Homo sapiens: one gene and its partner. The protein of the gene in region 1 interacts with the protein of each later gene in a pairwise test. Each region holds a gene or a part of one and is shown in the gene's direction. Other genes may lie near its edges.

The links.
Region 2: the proteins of NPR1 (region 1) and PRKG1 interact in a two-hybrid assay, tested with the Homo sapiens proteins (one study listed by BioGRID).

Annotation. Positions count from the first base shown.
Region 1 is NC_000001.11:153,688,627-153,691,853, forward strand, and holds part of NPR1 (atrial natriuretic peptide receptor 1 precursor), read left to right. Parts: intron 1-326; coding exon 327-473; intron 474-561; coding exon 562-685; intron 686-826; coding exon 827-895; intron 896-1,078; exon of another isoform or gene 1,079-1,167; intron 1,168-1,179; coding exon 1,180-1,354; intron 1,355-1,657; coding exon 1,658-1,756; intron 1,757-3,227. UniProt on the Homo sapiens protein: Receptor for the atrial natriuretic peptide NPPA/ANP and the brain natriuretic peptide NPPB/BNP which are potent vasoactive hormones playing a key role in cardiovascular homeostasis.
Region 2 is NC_000010.11:52,288,278-52,292,102, forward strand, and holds part of PRKG1 (cGMP-dependent protein kinase 1), read left to right. Parts: intron 1-448; coding exon 449-571; intron 572-653; coding exon 654-716; intron 717-1,946; coding exon 1,947-2,013; intron 2,014-3,825. UniProt on the Homo sapiens protein: Serine/threonine protein kinase that acts as a key mediator of the nitric oxide (NO)/cGMP signaling pathway. GMP binding activates PRKG1, which phosphorylates serines and threonines on many cellular proteins.

The DNA of each region.
Region 1 (3,227 bases):
ACACCCTTCTGTGGACATCACTTTGTCCGCAATTGACCCTTGTCATTCTCCACCTCCTTTACCTCCTTCTAACTCACTGGGTTCAACAAAGATGAACAAAATGTCCATATGTCTGAAGCTTCATACTTGACCTTGGGGTCTCAGAAAAGAATTGAACTTTCTTCCTTCTGTTTTCCCCTGCTCCCCGGTATCCTGCTATGCCCTCAACCCTGAGCGTCTCTAGAGACCTCACTGCAGTCTGGAGGGGGAAGTGCCTAGGGGCGGGCGCTCACGGTAGGCTGTGCTGCTCCTCTCTTACCACCCCCACCGCCACCCTCTGCCCCCAGGGAGAACAGCAGCAACATCCTGGACAACCTGCTGTCCCGCATGGAGCAGTACGCGAACAATCTGGAGGAACTGGTGGAGGAGCGGACCCAGGCATACCTGGAGGAGAAGCGCAAGGCTGAGGCCCTGCTCTACCAGATCCTGCCTCAGTGAGTGCCTGAGTCTGGGGACCCCCCCCAACACAAAGCCCCTGTCCCGACCCCCAACTCTGATCCTGCACCTGCCCTGACCCCTTAGCTCAGTGGCTGAGCAGCTGAAGCGTGGGGAGACGGTGCAGGCCGAAGCCTTTGACAGTGTTACCATCTACTTCAGTGACATTGTGGGTTTCACAGCGCTGTCGGCGGAGAGCACACCCATGCAGGTAGGCCAGGGTTCAGCCACAGGTGCCAGGCAAGCTCAGCATCTGGATCCCACCAGACCTGCCTTCTGGTTCTGCTTTACCCACCTGACCCCAGGTGGGGTCCCCTACTTCCTGTCTCTCTTAGCTTCTCTTCCCTTCCAGGTGGTGACCCTGCTCAATGACCTGTACACTTGCTTTGATGCTGTCATAGACAACTTTGATGTGTACAAGGTGAGGGTGGGAGTGGGGATGGGAAGGGACAGACAGACATGGACAAGGTCAGAAAAAGATGAGGGGTAGGCAGAATGATGTGGAGTCTTAAGAGAGGAGATCGGGGACACGGGCAGAGACAGTGACACAGGGAGACCCGGGAACAGGCAGAGAACCCATGTGGGATGGGGGATGAGCAAAGACAGATGAGGGTACAGAATGACAGACGCTGCACCCGGTGTGACGGTGTGGCCGGCCGCACAGTTGCAGCCGTCAAGTCCTGCACCCCCTCGCCACTCCCACAGGTGGAGACAATTGGCGATGCCTACATGGTGGTGTCAGGGCTCCCTGTGCGGAACGGGCGGCTACACGCCTGCGAGGTAGCCCGCATGGCCCTGGCACTGCTGGATGCTGTGCGCTCCTTCCGAATCCGCCACCGGCCCCAGGAGCAGCTGCGCTTGCGCATTGGCATCCACACAGGTAAGGCCACTGAAGGTGCAGGCGGGCATCCAGAGGCCAAGGCTTCGCAAGGGAAACTTGTCCCCTGGCCCAGCCCCTCGCCCTTTCATCTCTCTCTCTCTCTCTCTCTCTCTCTCTCTCTCTCTCTGTCTCTCTCTCTCTCTCTCTCTCTCTCTCTCTCTCACACACACACACACACACACACACAGAGCTGGGACCTCAGATCCTGCCTCCTGCCTGTCTTGGATTGTCCACCTACCTCCCTTAACACCCCTCCCTCCCTCACTCGCTGATGGGCTCTGCTCCTTCCCTTGCTCCTCCCAGGACCTGTGTGTGCTGGAGTGGTGGGACTGAAGATGCCCCGTTACTGTCTCTTTGGGGATACAGTCAACACAGCCTCAAGAATGGAGTCTAATGGGGAAGGTACAGTGCCCCCTCCTAGAGGGAATGGGGAGGGCAGGGTGGCTGAGGGAAATGCCATCCTGGGGCAGCCTGTGCCTGCACAGCCCGTTTCAGCTCCTAGCCCTTTCGCCTCCCAAGTTCCCCTTCTCATAATATTAAGAGTTCAACCTGGGCTCATCAACTTGACTGTAACCAGAGACTCAGGTTCCTGCTGCCCCTCTTGTCAAACGATGTAAAAGTATTTCCGGGCCAGTGCTGGAGAGTTCCCAGCAGGAATCTGATTTTAAGACCCTCTGTGGGCCGGGCGTGGTGACTCACACCTGTAATCCCAGCACTTTGGGAAGCTGAGGCAGGCGGATCACCTGAGGTCGGGGGTTCGAGACCAGCCTGACCAACATGATGAAATCCCGTCTCTACTAAAAATACAAAAAACTAGCCAGGTGTGATGGCAGGCTCCTGTAATCCCAGCTACTTGGGAGGCTGAGGCAGAAGAATTGCTTGAACCCGGGAGGCAGAGGTTGCGATGAGCCAAGATTACACCACGCACCCCAGCTTGGGCAATAAGAGTTAAACTCTGTCTCAAAAAAAAAAAAAAAAAAAAAAAAAAAGACCCTCTGCTCCACCTTTGATGTGGTAAAGATGGCTTCAGAGCCAGCATAAGTGAGGCTGTGAATCTCAGCTCCACAGCTGGCTGTGTGTCAGTTTGCTATACCTCTCTGAGCCATGGTTTTCCTCATCTGTAAAAAGAGGGAAAAAATCTATCTCACAGGAATTATGTGAGAAACCCATTAAAAATGTCTACCACATAATTGTCATTTAACTTTTCCAAGCCTTAGCGGATTATCTGTAAAATGATGTCTATCTCAGGATTGCAAGAAGCCTAGCACAAACCCTGGTACCCAGCAGGCACCTAATAAATTCTTACTCCTACCCGCCCCTTGCTCTTGCCTCCTGTTTATCTTCTATCCTTCTGCTGTATTCGACACAATTCAATGCAGTAAACATTTATTGAGTGACTACTGAGTGCCAGGCCCTGGGATAGTAACATGGCCCAGATCCAGAGTTAGCTGAGAAATTCATGTGGACCCCATCTAAACCTTATGGTGAAAGAAAGGCTGCTTGGGAGCCAGTCCTGGGAGCCCAGAGGGATCTAGTTCGGCAAATATTCCCTGGGCACTATTTTGGGGGCTGTCAGAGTACAGCCCCTTGTTGAGGGTCCAGTCCTCAAGGAGCACATTCCCAGAAATTGTTCAACATTCTGGGCGCTGGGGGTGCTTGTAATCCCAGCACTTTGGGAGGCCGAGGTGGGCAGATCACTTGAGGCCAGGAGTTGGAGACTAGCCTGGCCAACATGGTGAACCTCCTGTCTCTACTAAAAATACAAAAAATTAGCTGGGCGTGGTGGCACGTGCCCGTAATCCCAGCTACTCAGGAGGCTGAGACATGAAAATCACTTGAACCCAGGAGGTGGATGTTGCAGTGAGCCGAGACT
Region 2 (3,825 bases), on another chromosome or scaffold:
GAACAGAGAGAAGGCTATTGTTTCTGGATCCCAGTGAGTGAGGGTGGTAATGGCATGAGGTGGGGTAGTATCGTTGGTGTTCCTGCGGCCCCTCCTAATGATTTTGGACTTCATCTCAAGTATAATCAATGAGTCAGTAAGTGTGGAAAAGGTCAGAGAGTAGAAGAAGCATCTTGAATGACCAAGGACAGCATGAGGGCTTAGACTCCAGCACTTAAAAGAAAGCAAGAGAAGAGCAGATAAACTTGACCCATTTCTGGTTTCACTAAGTGATTTACTTGGAAGGGCTTCCACACTGTTTTGCTATTAATCTATTTTCATTCCATTGTCACTATTAATCTAAGCCCCCAAATATGAATTGATGTCATCTGTGGAGTTTATAGCAATTCAAGTGTTCTCATGTAGAAAATAAAAGTAATATCTCTTGTCGTGTCTCTCATTCTTGCAGCCCACCTTTCTCAGGCCCAGATCCTATGAAAACCTATAACATCATATTGAGGGGGATTGACATGATAGAATTTCCAAAGAAGATTGCCAAAAATGCTGCTAATTTAATTAAAAAACTATGCAGGTAAGTATTTCAACCACATTATTTTTGAAAACATCATAATGTGAAAAAATTAGATTTAATAAAACCATTATTTTATTTTTAGGGACAATCCATCAGAAAGATTAGGGAATTTGAAAAATGGAGTAAAAGACATTCAAAAGCACAAGTAAGTGTTCTTTCTGCAGAGTTCTGAACACGTGACATCATTTCCCCAGGGTGTTGCTTTTTAAGTTATTGGTGTAAAACTAGTATAATTAGCCTATAGGAACATCCAAAGACAGCGTATAAACTAGTAAGGCTTTTAAATGCCTTTCTAGTTGTGATTATGAAACCTTATTTATATTTATCTGACAACCCTGTAACATAAGAAGCTGAACTCAGTTTCTTACAACTCATACCAACTAGCATTTTTTTCCCCTCTGGCACAAAGGGGAAATGTGTATTTTAAATTTGGGGATTCTATTCTCTACCACAGAATTACAAATAAAAGTCCCCTACTGTATCTTACCTGATTTCCTAAAGACAAAATATATTTTTCCAAGCATTTCCTAATTAGATGTTATAACAGGAGAAAAACATAAGTACAGAATACAGTGTTTTTTAAACAATAGCAACATCTTAAATATCAGACCTTCCCTATGTTGATTGGATGTTCTAAAGCTAAACTAATTGGGTTTTCTCTATTTGTTTGTGTAACACTGACAGGAAATTCACATCCTTATCAAAGAAACATGTTTACTAAAATATCTCTGAATATCTGAAAAGCCTGCTAAGAATTTGTTGTAAGCATTTGCTAATGCTGAAACCCTTCAAAGACAAAAGAAAACAAACAAGCAAAAACTTTAGTCTTTTTTGGTTCTTATTTTCACAGAAAAACTGTACACAAAATATCTTTATTCTTCATTAAAAAAGGGAAAAAAAGAAGAAAATGGGACATGTAGAGACTATGACAATGATGTGAAAAGGTTAATTAGCTGACACTGTGCACTGAATCAGTGGCAAAAATGGAAAGTTAATTTTCTATCCTGACTTTTCATGCCCTGGTTCTACCTCCTTAAAATAAAATATCCTGTAAGGCACAGGGCCAGACACATTATGACATGTATTAAATTTTAATTATAGTGTAGGAACAAGGTCATAGAGACATTATGACTGAATTACAAGGAATAAGTGTTGCATGTTAATTGGTGTTTAAAATTTGACAGTTATACTTTTAAAAATATGTATTTCATAAAATAAACTATTAGGAAAACATATGCAATTAAATAGAAAACATTTTTGTCACATGAAAATGTTTGCCTAACTGCTTCCCATTAGCCATGGACATTGTATACACTGCAATGAGAAGCTTTTAGCTGACACAAAATGTTTTTATCAACGTTTTTTCCTTTTCTAGATGGTTTGAGGGCTTTAACTGGGAAGGCTTAAGAAAAGGTACCTTGACACCTCCTATAATACCAAGTGTAAGTAGACTTTCCAGCTTATAATTGTGTGACATAATTGATGGTGTTTATGTCAGTCAACAATGATCTGTTATTTTTAAAGTTTAATCCTATGATTAAGTTAAACAAACTCTAGGAAAAATGTCACATTAAAATAATGACATATTCTAAAATCCAAACTTGAAAGCAGATAAATTTGGGGATAGTCACTGTAAATGTGTTTTACTCTTCTCTTTTTTAACTATTCATTTGATTCAAGTTTCCCTCATTTATGAACATAAGTTAATTTTTAGCATGGGAAATGTTCAAAATATAGAAATGCAGACAAAAATATATAGGTGAGAGGATCACTTGAGGCCAGGAGTTCAAGAGTTCAAGACCAGCCAGCCTGGACAACATAGTGAGACTCTGTCTCTACAAAAAAAGAAAAGAAAATACTAGCCAGGTGTGCTGATGTGCACCTATAGTCCTAACTACTCAAAAGTCTGGAGCAGGAGGATCACTTGAGCCCAGGAATTTGAGCTTACAGTGAGCTGTGATTGTACCACTATACTTCAGCTTGGGTGACAGAGTGGAAAGACCCTGTCTCTAAAAAAAGAAATAAAATAACACTTTTTCAAAGAGTCTTTACATGATCACTCTTTTTTTTTTTTTTTTTTAATTTTTTTTTTGAGATGGAGTCTTAATCTGTCACCCAGGCTGGAATGCAGTGGCGTGATCTCGGCTTACTGCAACCCCTGCATCCCAGGTTCAAGCAATTCTCCTGCCTCAGTCTCCTGAGTAGCTGGGATTGTAGGCAAGTGCCACCACTCCCAGCTAATTTTGGTATTTTTAGTAGAGACACAGTTTCACCATGTTGGCCAGGCTGGTCTTGAATTCCTGACCTCAAGTGATCCTCCCACCTCGGCCTCCCAAGGGTTGGGATTACAGACGTGAGCACCGCGCTGGGCCTACGTGATCACTCTTTTATTTTTTTATTTTTTTATTTTTTTATTATTATTATACTTTAAGTTTTAGGGTACATGTGCACAATGTGCAGGTTAGTTACATATGTATACATGTGCCATGCTGGTGTGCTGCACCCATTAACTTGTCATTTAGCATTAGGTGTATCTCCTAAAGCTATCCCTCCCCCCTCCCCCCACCCCACAACAGTCCCCAGAGTGTGATGGTCCCCTTCCTGTGTTCATGTGTTCTCATTGTTCAGTTCCCACCTATGAGTGAGAATATGCGGTGTTTGGTTTTTTGTTCTTGCGATAGTTTACTGAGAAATGATTTCCAATTTCATCCACGTCCCTACAAAGGACATGAACTCATCATTTTTATGGCTGCATAGTATTCCATGGTGTATACGTGCCACATTTTCTTAATCCAGTCTATCATTCTTGGACATTTGGGTTAGTTCCAAGTCTTTGCTATTGTGAATAGTGCCGCAATAAACATACGTGTGCATGTGTCTTTATAGCAGCATGATTTATAGTCATTTGGGTATATACCCAGTAATGGGATGGCTGGGTCAAATGGTATTTCTAGTTCTAGATCCCTGAGGAATCGCCACACTGACTTCCACAATGGTTTAACTAGTTTACAGTCCCACCAACAGTGTAAAAGTGTTCCTATTTCTCCACATCCTCTCCAGCACCTGTTGTTTCCTGACTTTTTAATGATCGCCATTCTAACTGGTGTGAGATGGTATCTCATTGTTGTGTTGATTTGCATTTCTCTGATGGCCAGTGATCCAGTGATGATGAGTATTTTTTCATGTGTTTTTTGGCTGCATAAATGTCTTCTTTTGAGAAGTGTCGGTTCATGTCCTTGGCCCACTTTTTGATG